Linked DNA regions of Homo sapiens: region 2 is linked to region 1. The links come from fine-mapping of genetic effects on gene expression. A gene starts in region 1. The other region holds a variant in brackets. All regions are shown on one strand. Distances are between the middles of the regions.

Evidence for each region.
Region 2: its variant is fine-mapped to the expression of MRS2 in whole blood (TOPMed, PIP 0.94).

What each region holds. Positions count from the first base shown.
Region 1 is chr6:24,395,928-24,407,784 of GRCh38, reverse strand. MRS2 (magnesium transporter MRS2) reads right to left here and starts at 4,849. Exons shown (of 11, transcript NM_020662.4): 1 at 4,549-4,849; 2 at 2,544-2,617. The coding sequence starts at 4,738. RefSeq lists enhancers at 3,478-4,212, 6,421-7,156, 7,157-7,892 and silencers at 5,970-6,264, 7,150-7,444.
Region 2 is chr6:24,451,668-24,463,524 of GRCh38, reverse strand. GPLD1 (glycosylphosphatidylinositol specific phospholipase D1) reads left to right here. Exons shown (of 25, transcript NM_001503.4): 11 at 730-795; 12 at 3,126-3,246; 13 at 6,888-7,027; 14 at 9,324-9,510. Among named protein-coding and RNA genes, the nearest start is that of GPLD1, 32 kb to the left of the region's middle. RefSeq lists a silencer at 453-653. The variant G/A (reference allele first, on the strand shown) is at 6,395.

The DNA of each region.
Region 1 (11,857 bases):
CACTACCCTGTTGTTTCTCCTGTCCCTTATCCTTCTGAGTAGACTGGGACCAAGTATGGCCCGCCTTGTGAATCTAAATGTCTACATGAGGCCAAAGTCTCTTTGGTGGGTGTTGCAGAATCAATAAAGATTTACAGAACCCCTTCTGATAGTTTGAAGAGAGGATTTGATACAGAAAATGCACCTATTTCCTGCAAAGTAGGGGACTATCTTTCAGTGATGTTTATCCACAGTCAAGTTTGAAGCTGTGAAACATTTAATGAATCACTATGTGCTGAGCTGTACTACTTACTACGACAGACACATTTCAGAAAGACACTCCAACATACAGGTTTAAGTACAATATAGGTCTTGGGTTACTACCATGGAAATATACATGCTGTGTTAATCACACAATAAAAACTCACAATATATATATTTTATCTTGCTTCTCATCAGCAAAAATAAAATTAATATGAATATATAAGTTCCATAGAACATTAAAGGAAAATTTATATCAAAGAAAGCTTTATATTTGTGTAATAGTCTAGCTTTCAGCCTTATATTTCACAAATACATAAACCCACTGCAGAAAATTTGAAAATAAATATACGTAACATAAAACTATATTAATCACCTGAAATGACAAATTTTAGAGAAAACCATGTCAATATTTCACTGAATATCCTTCCAAACATTTTCCTAATAAAACATACTTATACATACTGCTTTGCAGTCTCCCTCCTTCCAAATTAGCAACATATGCTGAATATTTTTGCATCTCAATATTTATATGTACCCTTTTTTTCTTTAATGGAACTTAAAAAAATTTTTTAAATCATACAAATTATAAAGAAAAAAATATTTACTTTGTAACCAGCTCACTTTCTAAACTATTTCAAACAGCACAAATTAAATTTTTCTTTCTCAGATTCCATAGCTTTATGAATTTCTTAAGTGTTCTTTGCAATTATTTCACCTGCAAAGAACTAACTTTCAGTATTTCACGTTTGACTTTGTATTCTTTTTTTGAGACAGAGTCTTGCTCTGTTGCCCAGGCTGGAGTGCAGTGGTGCAATCTTGGCTCACTGCAACCTCCACCTCCCAGGTTCAAGCGATTCTCCTGCCTCAGCCTCCTGAGTAGCTGGGACTACAGGCGTGCACCACCACGCCTGGCTAATTTTTTTGTTTTTTAGTAGAGACGGGGTTTCACCATGTTGGTCAGGCTGGTCTAAAACTCCTGACCTCAAATGATATGCCCACCTCAGCCTCCCAAAGTGTTGGGATTACAGGCGTGAGCCACCGTGCCTGGCCCTGATTTTGTATTCTTAACTAAATTGGCCAACTCTTCCAGAACAATGAATAACAGTGGTAACTTTTAAACGCAATTCTGGGGGTTATTTAATTTTATATAGTTTATAAAGAAAAGCTCTTATGTTAACAAGCCTAAATAATCCTAATGAAATATATTTGAGGCTTACTATATGTGAGGCACTAGTTTAAGGGCTTTCTATATATGAGTTAATTTAATCCTCATAACAATTCTATATGGTAGGTTATGCTCAGTTTTCAGATGAGAAAACTAAGGCACAAAGATGTTATTGTAACTTGTCCAAGGCCACCTAGTCAATAAGAGGCAGAGTGAGATTGGAATTTAGGAAGTCTGGCTCAGAATAGGCACACCTTTTTTTTTTTTTTTTTGAGATGGAGTCTCACTCTGTCTGCCAGGCTGGAGTGCAGTGGCATGATCCAGGCTCACTGCAAGCTCCGCCTCCTGGGTTCATGCCATTCTCCTGCCTCAGCCTCCCAAGTAGCTGGGACTACAGGCGCCCACCACCAGGCCTGGCTAATTTTTTGTATTTTTAGTAGAGATGGGGTTTCACTGTGTTAGCCAGGATGGTCTCAATCTCCTGACCTCATGATCTGCCCACCTCGGCCTCCCAAAGTGTTGGAATTACAGGCGTGAGCCACCACGCCCGGCCGGCACACCTTTTTATCAAGACTTTTTTTTTTTTTGGAAAAAAAAAAAAAGCCTACAAAGAAGTTGCAAGAATATTACAACCAATTCCCATAGAGCTTTCACCTAGAGTCACCTTTGTTAACATTTTGCCCCAACAGCCTTCTTTCTCTAAAAATACGTGTGATACATTATCTTATTCATTCATTTCCCCCCTCATCCCCACCCCCGAACCATTTCAGAGAAAAGTTAGAGATCATGACCTTTCAAAGCATGCATTTTTAAATACTACTCTCTGCTGCCTTCAAAATGCTTCTGCCTGCGTATTATCTTGCAGAACATAGGTTCAAGCCTCTTTATGGCTCTGAATTGTGATTGACCTGTTCTAGTATTAAAAGGGGAGCTGCAGTCATTAGCAAAGGTTCAAGATCATTGTTAAGCAAATCTAGCAGGCACTTAGGTCACTGGCCAGGCACAACAGCCACGACATGTAGCTATGATGATTATAAAGCTCAAAATAAGTAGTATCTTGGCCAACAGTCCAACGAGTTAACTTATGTATGGGAAGCACTTTCTGTACGATTTCCAATGTACTGTACATACTCACCACAGTAAATACTGGGGCTACACTGGCTAAAGTGGCTTGAGAGACGTCAGAGGTTCTAAACCGGTGCACTTCACCTGAAGAATAAATTAAGAGAATTCCTGTGGTCACATGATTGGTTTTCACATAGAGCTAAAATACAACTCTCAAAGTATGTGGAGGCCTTCAGACTATTTTATTATTTTTAAATATTTTTCCTATAAGAAAAGAAGAAATACTCTTCTTAATTTTAACATCTGTTAGTGACTATCTTAGGTTTGGCAGGGAATGATTTTTAAAACTAATGGCTTAGGTGAGGCATTAAAATAACTGATGGATTCCAATCACCCTTTTACCTTTCTAATTATTACTGATATCTCAGAGTTGGATGAACAAATGTGCAACATCGTGTTCTGAGATTTAAGAAAATGTCTGGTCTTCCTTTTCGCATAATTTAAAAGACTCTTCATGCACATTTGGTAGTAGATACATTTTAGAAAACATAGGTCCTAAGTACCACCTGATCTTTCAAGCATTCCAGTTGACTGGCTCATAAATTATGAAACCTATGATTTTACTTCTTTTCTACAGATATCCTTTATAGTGAATACTTATGAAATACCCCCACTGAGCTGAAATGACAAATCTTTATTTTAAAATTGTCTATTTAAAACGTGATTAGACTGAGTCGAAGTGAGCGGTGAAGTATAATCAAGTACATTTAATGACTGACAGAGGACACTGTTTTGTGCTTCCAAAGTAATTACACTGATTCCAGAGACTGTAGAAAAAAAAACCTATTTCTGATCTTTTTTCTACTACATACACGTAATGATTGTTGTAATTTGTTAGTATCTGAAGTTTCATTTCCCTTTTACAAAATACAAATTATCACTATAAGGGTAAGATGAATAAAGGTAAAAGGCATTTGCTGATTACAAATGCCTTTCAATGTTTTAATGTCACAAATTAGAGTGTAACCGGGATTGAGATTGTGAACGTCAATGCTTGTCCTAAAAGTTTCCTCCAACTTGCTGAAACTGGATTCCCAAGCATTATCAATTGAGGGTGCAGAGCATGTAACCCAACTTAGCCTCTCCAATAAGTGGAGAATGAGGTGCTGACGAGGAGTTACTTTGGGAGGCTTTTGAGAGCACAATTGAGAAAACATATTTGAGGACACTGCTATGTTCTTAATAAAGTCATTCATTTCAATACCTTTTATTCCTCAAATATTTGCACTCACATTTGTGAAAATCTTAACTTTTCACCATGCTTCAACATTTGGTGAAAAAATAAACAGCAAATAAGATTTTTTTTTCTCAATCCGATCTCCCTGGCTGTTTACTTATAGAGTACTGTAGTTGAAAGTAAGTCGTTCTCAGAAACAACTCAGTCTTTAGCCTCACTTCTAGGTGCGTCCCCAATCTCCGTGCAACTGGACAACTGTATAAATGTGTCCATAACGAAGAAACAGAAAACAGGGAAGTATTAATTTATACTTATGACTTCCGAACAGATGAAATCCTTGTTTAAAAACACCTCTCGGCCAGGTGTGGTGGCTCACGCCTGTAATCCCAGCGCTTTGCGAGGCTAATGCGTTAGGATGGCTCGAGGCAAGGAGTTTGAGTCCAGCCTGGGCAACATAGTAAGACCCTGTCTCAAAAACAACACAGAAAAAACCTCTTACAAGAGCACTTAAGCGGGTGTTAACTAACGTGATCACGGTCTGTAAACGATTCCTAGGTTGTTCCTATGGTTACATAATCTGCAGCAAGGGCGGTGGAGGAGAAGGCAGAGGGTTGGCCGCTGGGACCCCGGCAGGGCACAGCGCACATAGCAAGGTCGCATTCTGAGCGAGTGGGACGCAGCTCGGCCCGCGGGCCTGTGCAAGCTCACAGGACACGCGGGAGGCCGAGGCCTGCGGAGGGCGCGGAGCAACAGGCGCGCCGCGCCGGACGGCTGGGGCAGCAGTCTAAGGTCACTGCAAGACCAGCGTCCCAAGGCTGTTGCCGGGGAAGGGCAGTACCTGCCACGCGGAGCCGGTCGGGCCCGCAAAGCTGCGCCGCTCGGCTCCTTCCAATCAGGTTGGCTCGGCGGCCGCAGGCAGCAACGGGAGGACCCACAGAGGTCACGTCCAAGGCCAGGGCACACAGCGTCCGCCGGGGAAGTCTCATCGCGCGGGGCAGGAGGCAGGGTAAACTGCGCAGGCATTCCATGGTGCTGGAGCAAGAAGCAGGCAGCAGCCAGACCCCAGACCTTCATGCCGGACGCTGGCTGCTCAGGCCGCAGCTCTGACCTGTCGCTACCGCCCGACCTGCAGACTCTGTGCACCAGGCATGCGCGGGGCGTGCCGCGCCTGCGTGCTACTTCCCCACGCATGCTCGGAAGGTACCTGTGGGCGAGCCTGTTAAGTCCACAGCCAATAGACGTTTGCTTGCCTACCTGTACCTGCACCTGTACCTAAGTGAGGGGGCAGGCGGGCTGGGAGATGGGTGGAGCACGTTTACCTGCACTAAGTGAGCTGTCCAACCTAGGTTCTTGGGCGCTTGGAGTGTCATGGTTTTGTAGTTTGTGGAGAATTTTCATACCTATGAAAATTGCAGTTTGGAAATGAGCAGGTTACCCATTCCCACATCATTTAATTTATATTTAAATTTAACGTGGTGTAGGGAGCAAGAGGGAAAGCTCCTACTTTTGCCCTCTGAAAGTTGCTGGAATGAACTAAGTAGACAGATTAGCAGGAGAAAAAGGCATACAAAATTTGCTTAACGTGCATAGGGAAAAATCACAGAAGAGTGATTACTCAATAACTCAATTAAGGTCCAGATGCTTGTATACCCTTCTTTGTTGAGTAGAGGGAGATAGGTATGAATGGGCCCGAAAGCCAGACAGTGGTTTGCAAATGATTCTCCTTGGACATTCAGTGGGACAGAAGTACAAACAATCGCTTGTGGACAAGCTGTGAAACTTCACTCTGAACAAAAATTGTCCTATTATACAGGTAAAGTTTCCCAGGTAATCTCTTGGAGCTACCCTCAGAAGTATCTATGAAAAGTCTCAGTGTGGCTATGACTTTCAGTTTTTGTCTCTTCTCTGGGTGATTAATCTCTTCTGATTATTTAATGCGATTCCTAAGGAACGGGTTTTAAGACAATTGCATTTCTTTGGAAAAGAGTTTTCTCTGTCAGATAAGGAAATTCCTTATCTGGCTGTGCAGGAAAAGAGAGCCCCTTCAGGTGCTTGGAAAAAGTAAGAGTATCAGAGAGACAAAAGGAAGGGGGAAGGTGAGAGAGAGAGGCCTTGATTTTTAGGCTTCTTTCTGAGACCCTTTTAATTTCCTTTAATTCAAAGACTCAACATGCCACCGGGCGTGGTGCCTCATGCCTGTAATCCAGCACTTTGGGAGCCAAGCACTTTGGGAGGCCAATGTTGTGGACCACTTGAGGTTAGGAGTTCAGGACCAGCCTGGCCAACATGGCAAAACCCGTCTCTACTAAAAATACAAAAATTAGCCGGGTGTGGTTGCAGGTGCCTGTAATCCCAGCTACTTGTAAGGCTGAGGCATAAGAATTGCTGGAATCCAGGAGGTGGAGGTTGCAGCGAGCCCAGATCATGCCATTGCATTCCAGCCTGTACTGCATTCCAGCCTGTACGACAGAGTGAGACTCCCATCTCAAAACAAACAAACCCCAAAGACTCAGCATGCCAAAACATCATATTTTGGGGTATTATGGTTTGAGCCCCAGTAGTGGCAAAAATAATCAACTGTCATATGGAATGATGTCATGTATTAAACTTTTGCTATAAAGAATGAGGAGCACAGACACATAAGATTTCTATTCCATATTTAATAAAATGTAAGATAGCATCAATTTTAAGGTACCATTATTTTATGTACCACCAAGAAAGAAAAAAAAACTGATAAGTTATGCTTTCTAAACATGTAGATTGAAAGACATATCTCAATTCCAGTCTTTAAAATATGAAAAAAGTCTTAGGTTAAATACAGTATGTATGCATATTTTAAAAATATGAGTTAATAAATTTATTGTCCCTTCCACAGTAGTAATACAAGGCAGACACAAGTTCCACAGACTTCCTTTCAATATCTATGTATGGACACAAAGCTAAGGAGACAGAGATAGAAACATTTTATTCTGCAGGGTACTGGGACTGGGGATGGAGTAGGAGGGCAGTGCACAAAGAGAAGCCTTCACAGAAGAGAGGATGTTTGACTTGATAATGTGGGGAAAAGAAAGAGAGATCAGATTGTTACTGTGTCTGTGTAGAAAGAAGTAGACATAAGAGACTCCATTTTGTTCTGTACTAAGAACAATTCTTCTGCCTTGAGATGCTGTTAATCTGTAACCCTACCCCCAACCCTGTGCTCCCTGAAACATGTGCTATGTCACCTCAGAGTTAAATGATTAAGGGCTGTGCAGGATGTGCTTTGTTAAACAAATGCTCGAAGGCAGCATGCTTGTTAAGAGTCATCACCACTCCCTAATCTCAAGTACCCAGAGACACAAAACACTGCAGAAGGTCGCAGGGACCTCTGCCTGGGAAAGCCAGGTATTGTCCAAGGTTTCTCCCCATGTGATAGTCTGAAATATGGCCTCGTGGGAGGGGAAAGACCTGACCGTCCCCCAGCCCGACACCCGTAAAGGGTCTGTGCTGAGGAGGATTAGTGAAAGAGGAAGGAACGCCTCTTTGCATTTGAGATAAGAGTAAGGCATCTGTCTCCTGCTTGTCCCTGGGCAATGGAATGTCTCAGTGTAAAGCCCGATTGTATATTCCATCTACTGAGATAGGGGAAAACCGCCGTAGGGCTGGAGGTGGGACATGCTGGCAGCAATACTGCTCTTTAAGGCATTGAGATGTTTATGTATATGCACATCAAAAGCACAGCACTTTTTTCTTTACCTTGTTTATGATGCAGAGACATTTGTTCACGTGTTTACCTGCTGACCTTCTCTCCACTATCATCCTATTGTCCTGCCACATCCCCCTCTCCAGGAAACACCTGATAATGATCAATAAATACTAGGGGAACTCAGAGGCCGGTGCCGGCGCGGGTCCTCTGTATGCTGAGCGCCAGTCCCCCGGGCCCATTTTTCTTTCTCTATACTTTGTCTGTGTGTCTCTTTCTTTTCCAAGTCTCTCATTCTACCTGATGAGAAATGCCCACAGGTGTGGAGGGGCAGCCCAACCCTTCAGATAATTGAAGGCAAAGAAAAACTTTAATCATTGCTTCCAGGGCGTTGAAGTCTGGAAAATCGCTGAGTATAGAGAACATGGCTGGTAGATTTTTCATTTTACTAAAGCTTTAATGATGAGATAAGTATTTCAAACATATTACATGCCTTCAGAGATGCTTCTTTGAGAAAATATGTGATAACTTTCTCTTTAAAACAAAATTTGCACCCAGCACAATGAGACAGCTCTAAGATAACTTTTGCAAAGTCTAAGGAAAACTCTGGAACCTGTCCAGACGTACAGCCTCGTAATTCGTGGCAAAGATTTTTCTGAGAAGGGTGGGAACCATTGGAGGACTTCGAGCAGAGAGGTAATGAGCAGAGGTAACAATCTGATTTATGTTTAAATGGGTCACTCTTGCTGTGTGGGAAAGAGACTACAGAGAGGCAATTGGAAGCAGAGAGATGGTGATGATGGTTTGGGCTAAGGTGGGGATGGTGGAGAGGGGAAGATGAGTTGGGCTTGGTACCATATATTGAAGGCTGAGTTGACAACATTTGCAGATGGGATATAAGAGAAAGAGAGGCATAGATGTTGCTCCAAAATGTGTATCCCGAACAGCAGGGCCTTGCTGGTGCTATTTACTGAGATAGGGAATTTTGGAAAGGAGCAGTTTTTTTTTTGTTTGTTTTGTTTTTTGTGACGAAGTCTCGCTCTGTCGCCCAGACTGGAGTGCAGTGGTGTGATCTCTGCTCACTGCAAGCTCCGCCTCCCGGGTTCACGCCATTCTCCTGCCTCAGCCTCCCAAGTAGCTGGGACTACAGGCGCCTGACACCACGCCCAGCTAATTTTTTGTATTTTTAGCAGAGATGGGGTTTCACCGTGTTAGCCAGGATGGTCTCGATCTCCTGACCTTGTGATCCACCCGCATTGGCCTCCCAAAGTGCTGGGATTACAGGCGTGAGCCACCATGCCTGGCCAGAAAGGAGAAGTTTTTAATTGAAAACTGTGGCTCAAACCTGTAATCCCAGCACTTTGGGAAGCCAAGGTGTGCGGATCACCTGAGGTTGGGAGATCGAGACCAGCCTGACCAACGTGGAGAAACCCCATCTCTACTAAAAATACGAAATTAGCTGGCTGTGGCGGTGCATGTCTGTAATCCCAGCTACTGAGGGGGCCGAGGCAGGAGAATCACTTGAACCCGGAGGTGGAGGGTGCGGTGAGCCAAGATCGCACTATTGCACTCCAGCCTGGGCAACAAGAGTGAAACTCCCGTCTCAACAACAACAACAAGAACAACAACAAAAACAAGAACAACAAAAACTATGGCATGGCATTTGGTTTTGAATGTTAACTTCGAGAGATGTCCTAGACAGATATCTGAGTGTAGATGTCAAGTAAGCAGCCTGGAATTCAGGGAAGGTGTTGGAGATAGATAGTTACATTTGAGACTGTATAGAATATTTAAAGCCACAAGATTGGAAGAGATCTCCCAAGAAGGCCGAGCACAGTGGTTCACCCCTGTAATCCTAGCACTTTGGGAGTCCGAGGCTGGTGGATCACCTGAGGTCTGGAGTTTGAAACCAGCCTGGCTAACGTGGCGAAACCCCGTCTCTACTAAAAATATAAAAATTATTGGGGTATGGTGGCAGGCGCCTATAATCCTGGCTACTCGGGAGGCTGAGGCAGGAGAATCGCTTGAACCCGGGGGGCAGAGGTTGCAGTGGGCCAAGATTGCCCCACTTCACTCCAGCCTGGGGGAAAGCAAAACTCCATCTCAAAAAAAAAAAAAAGTCTCCCAAGAAGTGAGTCAGAGAAAAAGTCATCATACAATTGAGCTCTAGATCCTCTCATATTGAATTGTTAAGAAGATGAGATAGATCCAGCAGAAGAGTATGAGGAGTGACAAAGAAAGAAATAGAATCAGAGGGTGGAATCCTAGAAGCCAAGTAAAGAAAGTTATTTAGTTGGGGTTCAGAAACTGCTACCCCAAAATATGTTTTGACATGTTAAACTGAAGAAGCCTCAAGGTCTCGCTGGCACCACCCCCTGCCAACTGAGTCTTCCAAAGATGAAGTTAACGTTTTTTTTTAACCTAAGATCCAGACCCATTAAAAGAAACAACTGTCTCTTCTCCTCCCTGAAAAACCAAGAATGTAACCATGCTTGAACACACCCTTTGACAGGGTAATGTTCATGTTCATCTCTGTTCCCTGATCCATTCATTCTCCCTAGTAATCCCCTCAATAGAATTCCTCTTCTACTCCCTCCCATAGCCTATTTTGCCAGGGTGGTATATAAGCTTCTTAACCCTGTTGGAGGTTGTGTAATCACCCTGTGATTCTCCCTGTGTACACATTTATACAATTTGCCTTGTCTCCAATCAATCTGCCTTTTGTGGGTTGATTTTTTTAGCAAACTTTCAGTGGCTGAAGGGGAAGTTTCTCTTGGTCCCTACTGTTGCATGAATGAAGAAGTGATAAGTTATGTCAAAATTTTCTGATGGGTAAAATAAGAAATGAGAATTGTCTATATTGGACATGACACTATGGAACTTATTGGTGATCTTCATAGGAGCAGCTTTAATAGAGTAACAGGAAAAGGGACCTGTGAAACCACTTTGCAAAGATTATCACAGTAAGAGATATCTGATGTAGTTGACTCCATCTTGCTTCTGACCTCCAAGCTGTCCTTGGTTGTTCTTAGGTATAGGCCAAACTAACCATGGAGGAATTTGGTTTATAGCTTAACTTTGAAGCAAGGATAATAGTCCTACCCTAAAACTACCCCCTTCCTGCTTGTTTCGGGGCTGAAACCACCTTCATGAGACTAGTGAAAGGCCCAAGATTAGGATTATGGAAGGAGTCTGAGTTCTGCTAAAATGTGGGCATATGTTCTATAATCCCTTACTGTTCAGGAGTCGTGTGGCCAGAGATCACAAGATTTGTGCTTTCTCAATTGCTCCTATAGATAACATCATCACTGTAGAACCTAAGATTGGCCCTTTGAGATGTTTTTCAGACTGACCCCACTCAAATTCATGACTTATGACTCAGCCTGTCCTGTGGTTCCACCTAGAGGAGAACTCAGTGCATGAGGACCATTTTCCAGCCCCTGTGATTTCATCCCCAACCAATCAGCAGCACCTGTTCCTTAGCCCCCTGCCCACCAAATTGTCCATAAAAACCCTAGACTCTGAGCCTTCAGGGAGACTGGGTCAAGTAATAACCTCATCTCTGGTGTGGCTGACCTTGCATCAATTAAACTCTTGTTTTACTGCAATGCCTCAGTCTCAGTGAATTGATTATGGCTGTGCAGCAGGCAGGAAGAACCCATCAGGGTATCACACCTGGATCACTGTCTTCCCTTTTATCCCAAGCCATAGCAGAATCCCAGAAGACGCCTGCATCTATATAATAACAATCTAGCCTCAACATTTCTTAATCTCTTTCCTTACCTTCTTGGCTTCATGGCACATTGAGCTAAAAAGCTATCTTTCTTGATCCCCACTTCCCCACTCTCCACTATCAGGAAGAAGGTGTAGAGGGAGGTGCTTGCCCACTAACTTCAAGCCCAGTGAGAGGAGCTTCTTAAGACCCACTCTAGGAGCTTGAAGAGTTTATAGACTCACACCTGAGCAAGCAATAGACGCTTTGCATCAGGAAAGTAACTGTGTTTTCTCTAAAGGTACATAAAGCCTGAAGTGCAGATGTGACAAGAATATCAGCCTGGGATTGTTTTAAAAAGAATCCTTCCCCAAAGAGCAGCATATCAGGGAGTGAGGAATCTGGCCTTAGAGGCAAGAAGGGGCAGAGCTCAAAGTGATCCGAAGTGGCACCGCCCTTATCAAGGGAATGGCAACCAGATGGGCCTGGGGTGGGGGCGGAAGAGAAGTCCTCTGGAGAACCTCCTTACAATGTGAACCTGTGCACAAGGAGAGTCCACTTTAAAATCTGCCCCAGCTGGGCACGGTGGCTCATGCCTGTAATCCCAGCACTTTGGGAGGCCGAGGTGGGTGTATCACCTGAGGTCTAGAGTTCGAGACCAGCCTGGGCAACATGGTGAAATCCCGTCTGTACTAAAAATACAAAATTAGCTGGGTATGGTGGTGCATGCCTGTAATCCCAGCTACTTGGGAG
Region 2 (11,857 bases), 56 kb before region 1:
AGAAATGTTTTGGTAGGAAGAGTCTGCCTTCAGCTTTTTCCCACCTCCTTTTTGGAATTCCTTTTTCAGCAACTAATTTTCTTCACCCCTACACTCCACATTACTTTTGTATTACCCCAGCCTCCCTCAGTGACCTCCATACAAATCTTAAGATAGTCTTCATTCCAGAATACTCTTCTTATATTAATACCTGCTTCCTCAGTGCTTCTGTTCAGTGTTGGGGGAAAGCCTCTATTGGGAAGAGTTTATCTCTTATGTTCTCAGAGGCTTTTTCACTTGTAAAAGGGGATCCTTCATTAGCTATTTAATTATTGAAATTATGGAATTTTTTTTAAAGAAATGAAATTGAGAAATTCAGACACATTTAGGCATAAATGTGTATAATTGGGCAGAAGGTGACATAATTGGTAACCAGTGTTGATAACACTCTCAAATTCTGAGACGTTTCGTGTTAGCGTGGAACAGCTCAGCAGGTGGAGCGGGGAGGGAAGAGGAAGGCTGAGTCTGGGGTGACTGGCAGCATGAGCCTTCCTGGATTACCATGATAGTGACAACCGTCAGCCTACCCACCCTCTCTGGGAGAACATGGGCTCTTAATTAGTCCTGTATGGCTAGGTAATAAACACTTTAAGCCTTTGGGAGATGATTGAAGCGCACTACCGATTCTCGGTAAAATTCATGCTTGTGAAGAAGTAGATAAATGGCTAACTCATTTGACTGTTTCCTCAGTGACTGCAACCTGCCTGAGAACCCTCTGTTCATTGCATGTGGCGGCCAGCAAAACCACACCCAGGGGTAAGTGGATTCCAAAATTGTTCATAGAAAAAGTACATCTCACCTGGAGGAGATGCCCTATAGAGGTTGAGAACACGGGATCTGTTGAGAGACAGCTGTAGGTTCAAATTCCAGATTTGTCACTTGCAGCTGTGTGATTTTTAAACAAGCTGCTTGATTTTTGGAGCTATAGCTTCCTCCTTTTGCAAAATGGAAAAAGCACATCAACACTCCCAGAATTATGGTGTGGATGACATGCAGTGGTGGATGTAAAGCAATTAGCACATGTTGAGTTGCTCATTAAACGGTAGTTAGTGGCTGGGCACAGTGGCTCATACGTGTAATCCTAGCACTCTGGGAGGCTGAGGCAGGAGGATCCCTTAAGTCCAGGAGTTCAGGACCAGCCTCAGCAACATAGTGAGACCCCTATATCTACAAAAAATGAACAAAATTAGCCAGGTATGGTGGTGTGTGCCTGTAGTCCCAGCTACTTGGGAGGCTGAGGCGGGAGGATTGCTTGAGCCTAGGAGTTCGAGGCTGCAGTGAGCTGAGATCAGGCCAGTACACTCCAGTCTAGGCAACAGAGTGAGATCCTGTCTCAAAAAAAGAAAGAAGAAATGTAGTTAGTATTATTGTAACTATCAATATTATTGTCTTACTCATAAACTTCACCCAGATTTTACATGAAAATTTATTTATTGATGAGACAGTGTTGGGAGAAGCCCTCAATGTTAAGGGCCAGAAGCCTGGTTTGTATTTTAAGAAATGATATTTTCTGCTGGAGTCAGGTACCAACCGACAGTCATTTATGCATTCATTTAATAAGTTATTAATATTACAAATATGTGTATATTTATTAATAAAATAGAACAAAATAACACAAATAATAAAATATCATTTATTAATCAGTACGTGCCAGGAACTGGTTCAGGCACTAGAGATATCATTGTGAACAAGACAGAAACAGTTCCTGCTCTCAGGTATATGGCCTGGCAGGTAGCTGGGCACTAAACAAGTAATTGTGGACATTGTTAAGTGTTAGGAAGAAAAAATGCAAGGTGCTCTGGGGATTTGCAAGCGTCCTGGCCTGGGCACAGGAGGGTTCTCCTTGAAGAAGTGATGGCTTAACAGATATTTAAGTGTCAGGAATTAAAAATGCAGGGTGTTCTGGGGATTTGCAACAGAGCGTCCTGGCCCTGGGCACAAAAGAGCTCTCCTTGAAGAAGTGATGGCTTAACCGGGATATTTAAGGATGATCAAGAGTGAGATATACTCAAAAGTAGAGTATTGCAATGATAAAGGTACTGAGAGGAATGATCTTAGCACTTTGGAAGAATGAAAATTACACAGAAAGTGTTCAGTGAAGTCGTCATTGTTGTATTTGAATTGGGTAACTTTTTTTTTTCTTTTTCTTTTTTTCCTAGCAAACCATTCCTTCAACATACTTTGTTGTTGTTTAATCACATTGAGCACCTTTTGATTAGGCTTGCAATCTTTCTTGGGGTTGCCAGAACCCTGACACTAGTTGGTGTCATGCCCAGGGCCCCGTCACTTACGGCTGTTGTCCACTCCCTACTTCAGTCATTTCTGAAGCCTCTCTGGCTCCCTGAGTCATCTGCTTTTTGGCTGGTTGACATCTTTGAATGTGAAAATGTATTTTTATTGTATAATTAATTTTAGCATGTCTTTGAAGATAAATCAGTATGCTGGCTGGGCGTGATGGCTCACACCTGTAATTCCAGCACTTTGGGAGACCGAGGCAGGTGGATCACCTGAGCTCAGGAGTTCGAGCCCAGCCTGGCCAACATAGTGAAACTCCATCTCTACTAAAAATACAAAAAAATCAGCTGGGTGTGGTGGTGCATGCCTGTAGTTCCAGGCTACTCAGGAGGCTGAGACAGGAGAATTGCTTGAACCCAGGAGGCGAAGGTTGCAATGAGCCGAGATCGTGCCACTGCACTGCAGCCTAGGTGACAGAGCAAGACTCCGTCTCAAAAAAAAAAAAAAAAAATCAGTATGCTTGCAAAGCAGTTTCCCCACCAGCTGATACCTGTTGCTAAATTTTTTCATAATCTGGAAAGAATTGAAGCCTTTTACTCCTACCATAGAGCTCTGATATTATAGGAAATATGTTTTATAAGGATAGGCTTTTAAGCCTTAGAAATGTGTTTACTAAAAGATTTTGTGAAATGAAGGTTTTCTAAAACTTTCTGTGTTGCTCCTTCAGCCTTCTGACGTTAAAATTTTGTGGTCTTTTAACCTGTGATTAACTTGACTATATTCTTCAACTCAGTTTTACAGGGGGTTGTTTTCTCAGTCGTAACCAGTTTATTCCTCTTTCTCTTCAACAGCTCAAAAATGCAGAAAAATGATTTTCACAGAAATTTGACTACATCCCTAACTGAAAGTGTTGACAGGAATATAAACTATACTGAAAGAGGAGTGTTCTTTAGTGTAAATTCCTGGACCCCGGTAAGAATTTTCTGCTCTAAGTTGAGAAAGAGGAATGCTGCTTCTTGAGATACCTTGTTTCGCTGAGTCCCTGGGTATTTATTTGTCCATTGAAATTTACCTGTGGTGGGATGTGGTGGCTGGGAGGCTGAGTTGAGAGGATCCCTTGAGTCCAGGAGTTTGAGACCTGTCTGGGCAACATAGCAAGACCTTGTCTCTATAAAAAATAAATAAATTAGCTGGGTGTGATGGCTGTGCCTGTTGTCACAGCTACTTGGGAGGCTAAGGCAGGAGGATTGCTTGAGCCCAGGAGTTCAAGGCTACAGTGAGCTATGATCATGCCAGTGCACTCCAGCCTGGGTCTAAGCATGTGCCAGGCCGGCAAATACTCTTGGCATCCATATGTGGTTTGTTCTGGAGATGCCCTGAGTCTGCACCTCAGTGGTCTCTGTCAAGTCAAGATGACCCTGGGCACCCAGGCCAATCCTTCTTTGGACTTAGTCCCAAAGGCGTTCACAATGTTGAAGGCTCACTGTGCATAGCCCCATTGTGTATGAAATTAATCAATGAAGTTAGCTGTTAAGTGAAGACACTCTACTGGGGGATATAAAATGAAAGACAAATGAACTCTGACCCTTAAAAAATTTCAGTCTGAAAGGAGTGACAAATACAAAAATAACCATTATGTGAGTAGACTGCAACACATACCATGGTGCGGTAAGTGCATCATTAGATAGTAGGGAGAATGGGCGTGGTGGCTCACGCCTGTAATCCCAGCACTTTAAGTGGCTGAGGCAGGTGGATTGCTTGAGCTCAGGAGTTTGAGACTAGCCTGGGTAACATAATGAGACCCTGTCTCTACAAAAAAGTAACAAAAAATCAGCTGGGCATGGTAGTGTGCACTTGTAGTCCCAGCTATTCGGGAGGCTGAGGTGGGAGGACTACTTGTTCCTGGAAGGCAGAGGTTGCAGTGAGCTGAGGTTGCACCACTGCACTCCAGCCTGGGTGCTAGAGTGACACCCTGTCTCAAAAAACAAAACAAAAAAAAAATAGCAGGGAGAAAAGCTTCACCTTGGAGGCTATCAGACAGAGAAGGCTTCCTGGAGGAGGGGACATTCAAGTTAGGTCTTGGACAGTAGATAGTATTTCATCAGTGAGAGTACATTTCTGTTAGTGGGTTGGGAAAGTTTCAGGTGTTGGGAAATCTGAGTAGTCGTATTTGCCTGGAGCACAGGACAAGGAATATGAGTTACTATGAGAGGCTTAGGAAGCTAAGTAGGCATTGGATTGTAGTGGGCTCTTAATGTCAGAAGGGTTTAGACAACTTTGTGAATGGGGTCTCTGAGAATTGCGGAAGGGCCTAGTTTAGGTTTAATATACTGCTGTCACTGCCTTAAAATTCTTAACAATTTTTTTTTTTTTGAGACAGAGTCTTGCTCTGTCACCTGAGCTAGAGTGCAGTGGTACCACCTCAGCTCACTGTAACCTCTGCCTCCCGGGTTCAAGCAATTCCCTGCCTCAGCCTCCTGAGTAGCTGGGATTACAGGCACCCGCCACCATGCCCAGCTACTTTTTGTATTTTTAGTAGAGATGGGGTTTCACCATGTTGGCCAGGCTGGTCTTGAACTCCTGACCTTAGGTAATCCGCCCACCTGGGCCTCCCAAAGTGCTGGGATTACAGGCGTGAGCCACCACACCCGGCTTTAACAATTTTTTTAACAAAAGGCTGCATGTTTTAATTTTGCCCTGGCCTCCTTAAATTATGTAGCTGGTCCGGACCGGGGAGGGGAACCTCTATCAAAGCACATGTCATTTTGTCTTGCCATATTTGGATTTTCTCCTTTGCAAAAAAATGAATTGTCTAAGGAGGGACTTTATGTTCCCAGTGTCTGCTGTGGTACCTGGCATATAGTAGGAGCTGATTAATTGCTTCCTGGATGAATGAGCAAGTCAGAGCTAGGCTTTAGGATGAAGCAATCTATGCATGGCCTGCCAGTGAGATTAGAATGGGCAAAGCAGAAGGCATACTCGTGCCTGAAAGATCCTCAGACCCTGTGCTTTTGCAGCGCCTGAGCCATCTGGGCTGCCTTCATGCTCTGAGCCAACTGTGCTCTGCTTTGGAGCAGACCTAGGAAATCTTGTTTGGTCTCATGTCACCCTTGGGCAGATTTAGAGTTGTGTCCCCTTAACTTGGATGGATCTAGTATCTGGCCAGCTTGTTCAGGGCCACTCTCGTTTGTGTTTTTTGTCTCTGCAGTAACCACATTAAGAACGATTCAGCATCCCAAGCTGAGGGGCTTGTTGTCCCCCAAATTCTGTGGTGTACGGCTCCTAGCATTCTGCATGTGACCTCTCGTGCCTGCCTGGCAGCAAATACAACCACATCTCAGCTTGGGTGTGGTTTGGAGGATATCGTTTTTTTTTTTTGAGATGGAGTCTTGCTCTGTCACCCAGGCTAGCGTGCAGCGGCACGATCTCAGCTCACTGCAACCTCCATCTCCCAGGTTCAAGCGATTTTCCTGCCTCAGCCTCCCAAGTAGCTGGGACTACAGGTGCCCGCCACCACTCCCAGCTAATTTTTAGTAGAGACGGGGTTTTACTATATTGGCCAGGCTGGTCTCGAACTCCTGACCTTGTGATCCTCCCACCTTGACCTCCCAAAGTGCTAGGATTATAGGCGTGAGCCACCACGCCTGGCCGGTCTGGAGGATATCTTTGGCATCCTGTTGTTCCAGTTTATTTGTTTGTTAATATATATACACATATACAAATACAATTAAAGTTCTGCATTGAAAGGACTTGTTCTTTTTCTTGTTGTTGAGACAGAGTCTCATTCTGTTGCTCAGGCTGGAGTGCAATGGTGAGATCTCAGCTCATTGCAGCCTCAACCTCTTGGATGCAGGTGATCCTCCCATTTCAGCCTCCCAAGTAGCAGGGATTACAGGCACGCTCCACCACACTCGGCTAATTTTTTGTATTTTTTGTTGAGATGGGGTTTCTCCATGTTGCCCAGGCTGGTCTCAAACTCCTGGGTTCAAGTGATCCTCCTGTCTCAGCCTCCTAAAGTGCTAGGATTACAGGTGTGAGCCACTGCACATGGACAGACTTGTCTTTTAAAAAATTTTAGTCCCCTGGGCATGGTGGCTTACGCCTGTAATCCCAGCACTTT[G/A]GGGGAGCCGAGGCAGGTAGATTGCTTAAGGTCAGGAATTCGAGACCAGCCTGGCCAACATGGTGAGACCCCATCTCTACTAAAATACAAAAATTAGCTGGGTGTGGTGGCGAGCACCTGTAATCCCAGCTACTAGGGAGGCTAAGGCAGGAGAATTGCTTGAACCCAGGGGGCGGAGGTTGCAGTGAGTTGAGATCGTGCCACTGCACTCCAGCCTGGTGACAGAGCGATAACTCTTTCTACCCATGCTGGTCCCAACCTCTTGGGCTGTAACTCTGCCATCCCTCAGCATAATTTGGGGGTATGATTTCACTATCCTAATTGCCTGTCCTAAGTGATCTTACTTGCTGATAGGACCTAATGTTTTATTTTATTGTTTAGCACTTCTAAAAACTCATTTCCTTTACACAAGTCCAATACTTTGGACAGGAAACAGTAGCTTTGTTGATTATGCTACGTGTCTTTACTGTCTATAATGATTCTTTTATTTCAGGATTCCATGTCCTTTATCTACAAGGCTTTGGAAAGGAACATAAGGACAATGTTCATAGGTGGCTCTCAGTTGTCACAAAAGCACGTCTCCAGCCCCTTAGCATCTTACTTCTTGTCATTTCCTTATGCGAGGCTTGGCTGGTACGTATAAGTTTATCTAACTTGTGAATGTTTTCTTCAGTATTAATTTTATTCAATCATTCTGCAACTGTTTTTTATTTCATTTTATTTTATTTTATTTTTGAGACAGAGTCTCACTTGTCACCCAGGCTGGAGTACAGTGGCTTGATCTTGGCTCACTGCAACCTCTGCCTCCCAGGTTCAAGTGATTCTCTGCCTCAGCTTCCCAGTAGCTGGGGTTACAGGTGCGCGCCACCATGCCTGGCTAATTTTTATATTTTTAGTAGAGACAAGGTTTCACCATGTTGACCAGGCTGATCTCGAACTTCTGGGCTCAAGTGATCTTCCCGCCTTGGCCTCCCAAAGTCCTGGGATTGCAGGTGTGAGCCACTGTGCCCAGCCCTCTGCAACTGTTTTAAATGGTGCTTGTTAGCACCTTGCTTGTCAATGAATTCATCATCAACAAAAGCATTAATTTATTTGATTAAAAAAATTTTTTTTTCTGTACTAGAGATGGGGTCTTGCTATGTTGCCCAGGCTGGTCTCAAACTCCTGGGCTCAAGCGATCCACCTGCCTCAGCCCCCCAAAGTGCTGGGATTACAAGCATGAGCCACTGCACCTGGCCAAAAGCATTAATTTAATGGTTAAGTTATTGTAACAATGAAATGATCTCCTTACACTTGGTCAAATATGTTTAAATACAAGGAACTTTCGGTTTACTAAATAATCACAACAATAAAGGATTGTTTCATGGAATTTTTGTAAAGCTCTGATGTTCTTGGAGATAAATTCTTACAGATTTCTTTTGTAATCTAGTCACATCAGAAGGATATAAGCAGATAGCTGTTATAGTGATTTAAATATTGTAACTTCATATGGTAAAAGCTGGTATACCATGACAGTTTTATAAAGAGAATGTTAGGAATTCCTCTGATTTTAAAATTCAACCAAAACTAAGCCCCCAAAATAAATAAAAAAATAAAACAAAACAACAACAACATACAAAACTAACCCCAAGTATATAAAAGTGACTATTTTCTGGAAGTTTGGATGAAGGCTTTTTAAAAAAATCATACTCCTTAATTCCAAAGGGCATTGCATTTCCTTGGCACAATTTCCTGACAGTCCTTCCTTTCAGGGCTTCTGTGCATTCAGCTCTAGTGCAGGAGATGGGGAGGTGAATGCTGTCTTTACTGGTCGTTCACTTGTGTGTATGGCTACCTCCCTGAAAGATCCGAAAGGCCTCCTGCTGGGCTGGCAGCTACATAAGCACAGCCAGCCACAGGGGCATCCCTAGGGCCATTACTGGCCAGCATTGAGCCTCCAAAGTGCAGAGAACAGCAATGGGTCCACTGGAGTGTCTGTCCCTCCCACCAGGTATCACAGCCTTAAACAACTGCTCTTGACTTTTTCCTTTGTTCTGCCGTTTGTTCTGATTTCGGCTCACTGGGTTCTCTGCCTCCCGGGTTCAAGTGATTCTCCTGCCTCAGCCTCCAAAGTAGCTGGGATTACAGGCGCCTGCCACCATACCCAGCTAATTTTTGTATTTTTAGTAGAGACAGCATTTCACTGTCTTGGCCAGGCTGGTATCGAACTCCTGATCTCAGGTGATCCACCTGCCTTGGCCTCCCAAAGTGCTGGGATTACAGGCGTGAGCCACCATGCTCGGCCTGCCATTTGTTCTTTATGTGATGATAAGCACTAGAATAAACAAATGACTTTTGGTCTTTCCAGCCCCTGTAGTGACACTTGAACCTTTGACTCGGTTTATCCAGCTCTGTAACTGGTGGCTCTTGGAATCTCATCTAGGAGCCTCTACTAAACATGTGGGACTCTTGATTTGGCCCACTGCCAGGTGCCTTTGTGGCTGTGGTAAAAACATAGTCTATTTCACACAAGCTCGTCTTTGATCAGATAACACATTGAAACGAATTGAGCAGATCAGAAAGTGGCCTGCGCCATTGGCTAGAGGGGCTTGGCTGGACATGAATTTCCTCTCTACTCTCAGGCAAGCCCTGGTTTTGTGTATAAGACAAGAAGCTTCATGAGTATACTTTTCATCCTCTCAGGTTATGTAGTCCAGAAATGCTTAGAGGCCTTGATTTGTCCATTTTTATTTTATTTTTCCCCTTGAAGAATGAGACTGAATCACACTAACAATACAACCTGAGAAGTGAATATTCACAACAGTCACGCAGGGTGGAAAAGTCAGTGAGAGAAAGTTAATGGACTGGGCTCTAGAAAGGAAAGAAGCAGGCGACAGCTTTAACCCTAGTGCTCAGTGCATACCATGGTGGGTCCCTTCACTTCCCTAAGGGCAATGACCTCAGCTGACCTCAACCAGGATGGGCACGGTGACCTCGTGGTGGGCGCACCAGGCTACAGCCGCCCCGGCCACATCCACATCGGGCGCGTGTACCTCATCTACGGCAATGACCTGGGCCTGCCACCTGTTGACCTGGACCTGGACAAGGAGGCCCACAGGATCCTTGAAGGCTTCCAGGTGAGACACCATCTCATCCTTTCTCTTCTAGTGGTTAGTAGCTACTCTTGCATTTTGTGGCAGATTCTCCAGGATGAGTAACTAATAACAAGAATAATTACAGTAACAAACAGCTGGTGGTGTACATTTGTGAAGCACTTTTTAGTTTTAGAAGCATGTTTACATCATTTATTTTATTCTATCATTAGTCTAATACCTTCCAAAAACACACATGCTATTGAGAACTGCTTTGAGTGGCCAGTTGGGATGTGATTTCTTGATAATATAATTGATAATATAAAACCTCTTTATACACACACACACACACACACACACGAAATGTATGTATTTATAAAACTTTGTAAGTATTTTATTTTAATTAATTAATTTATTTATTTGAGATGGAGTCTCTTGCTCTGTCACCCAGGCTGGAGTGCAGTGGTGCAATCTCTGCTCACTGCAACCTCTGCCTCCCGGGTTCAAGCAATTCTCCTGCCTCAGCCTCCTGAGTAGCTGGTACTACAGGTGCACACCACCAGGCCCGGCTAATTTTTTTATTTTTAGTAGAGATGCAGTTTTGCCATGTTGGCCAGTCTGGTCTCAAACTCCTGACCTTAGGTGATCCACCCACCTTGGCCTCCCAAAGTGCTGGGATTACAGGCGTGAGCCACTGCATCCGTCCAGAATTTTAGATTCACAGAAAAGGTATAAAGACAGTACAAAGAGTTCCCATGTACTGTTTACTCATTTTCCCCTATGTTAACATCTTACATAATTATGGTATACTTGTCAAAAATTAAGAATAAAAACAACACTGTACATCACTATTAACTAAACGCCAGGCTTTCTTTAGATTTCCTTCTTTTGTCCTAAGTGGTTATTCATCACCTGAAAAAACCCGCAGTGACTACAAACGTTCCTCGTGGAGTCCAAGCATTAATTCCTCCCGAGAGCGCTAGGGTCCTGGAAAGTTTTTCTAACATCAGAGGCTTTAGTTTTTGTAACAGCAATAAGGAGGAGCGTGGGGGGGTGGGGTAGACAGAGCTCTGCTACTAGTCACCAATGAGTGTGGGGCTTTTGGTGATACTGGCCTGGCACTGCATTCTCTGAGTGTCAAGTGCTAGGGGGAGAACCCTAGACTTCCAGTCAGATCGTCGTGGTTCTTGTTCCAGGCAAGGCACTTACCCTTTCGCTGTGAAGTGAATCCTGTGAAGAGAAAATAAGATGGCACACCTGAACGTGCTTGCTTTTTTTTTTTTTTTGAGATAAACTCTCACTGTTGCCCAGACTGGAGTGCAGTGGCATGATCTTGGCTCACTGCAACCTCTGCCTTCTGGGTTTAAGTTATTCTCCCATCTCAAGGTCACAAGTAGCTAGGACTACAGGCATGCACCGCCATGCCCGGCTAATTTTTGTATTTTTAGTAGAGACGGGGTTTCACCATATTGGTAAGGCTGGTCTTGAACTCTTGACCTCAGGTGGTCCGTCCGCCTCAGCCTCCCAAAGTGCCGGGATTGTAGGTGTGAGCCACCACGCCCAGCCATGAACACGCTTTCAAAAATAAGAAGTACAATGATTTATGATCTAGTTTAGGCTCTGATGAAAGGAGCTCTGAATCCAACATGTACAAATAAGGTGACTGGTCAGTGTGTAAGGTCACAGTCCCAGAGGGACAGCATTTTTCAGGGCCTTCTGACACCACATGAAAAATTTCCAAAATAAATTTATCTAATCTTGTTGCTTCTTACTTCTCTACAAAGCCTTTCCCCGACAGACTGTTGTGTAAAGTGTAAACCTTTGGGCACATATAGACAGGGAATAAAGAGAGGCACCTGCTTCCTGTGGCTGCTAAACTCTCTCAAAGACCACTTGGGTGAGAAAGGAAGTGGCTCCATGCCCTCCTCCCCTAGTGACCTTTGATCATTTCAAAGATGGCAAGATAAAGGCATGGACGAAGGATGGAAATCCTGCCCTCAGGCCCTGACTGCAGTGAGCATCTCTGTGTCCTCATTGATACAATGAAGGTTTATGATAGGAAACTCAAGGCCTGGCCTGCTTTAAAGTTCTGTGCTCCTCTCGGAATGACTGGCTGGCCCGTAGGAGGGCCGGATGGTGCAGCTGATAGTGATAAAATGAACCAGTCCTCAGCTGGCAGAGCCCTGAGTTATTGGTTCCCACCCTGCCCTAGCGTGTTTTGTGTCCCCAGGCAACCTTATCTTGTTTATCAAGTTTCTGCCTTACAGAAAGGGGCAGCACTTATAGATGCCACTGCACACGGGTGTGGAGAGATTACCTAATAAATAATGGACGTGGGTCCTTCAGCATGTGTGTTATGTGGCAAGCACCACTGTGTGAAAGGCCATTCGTT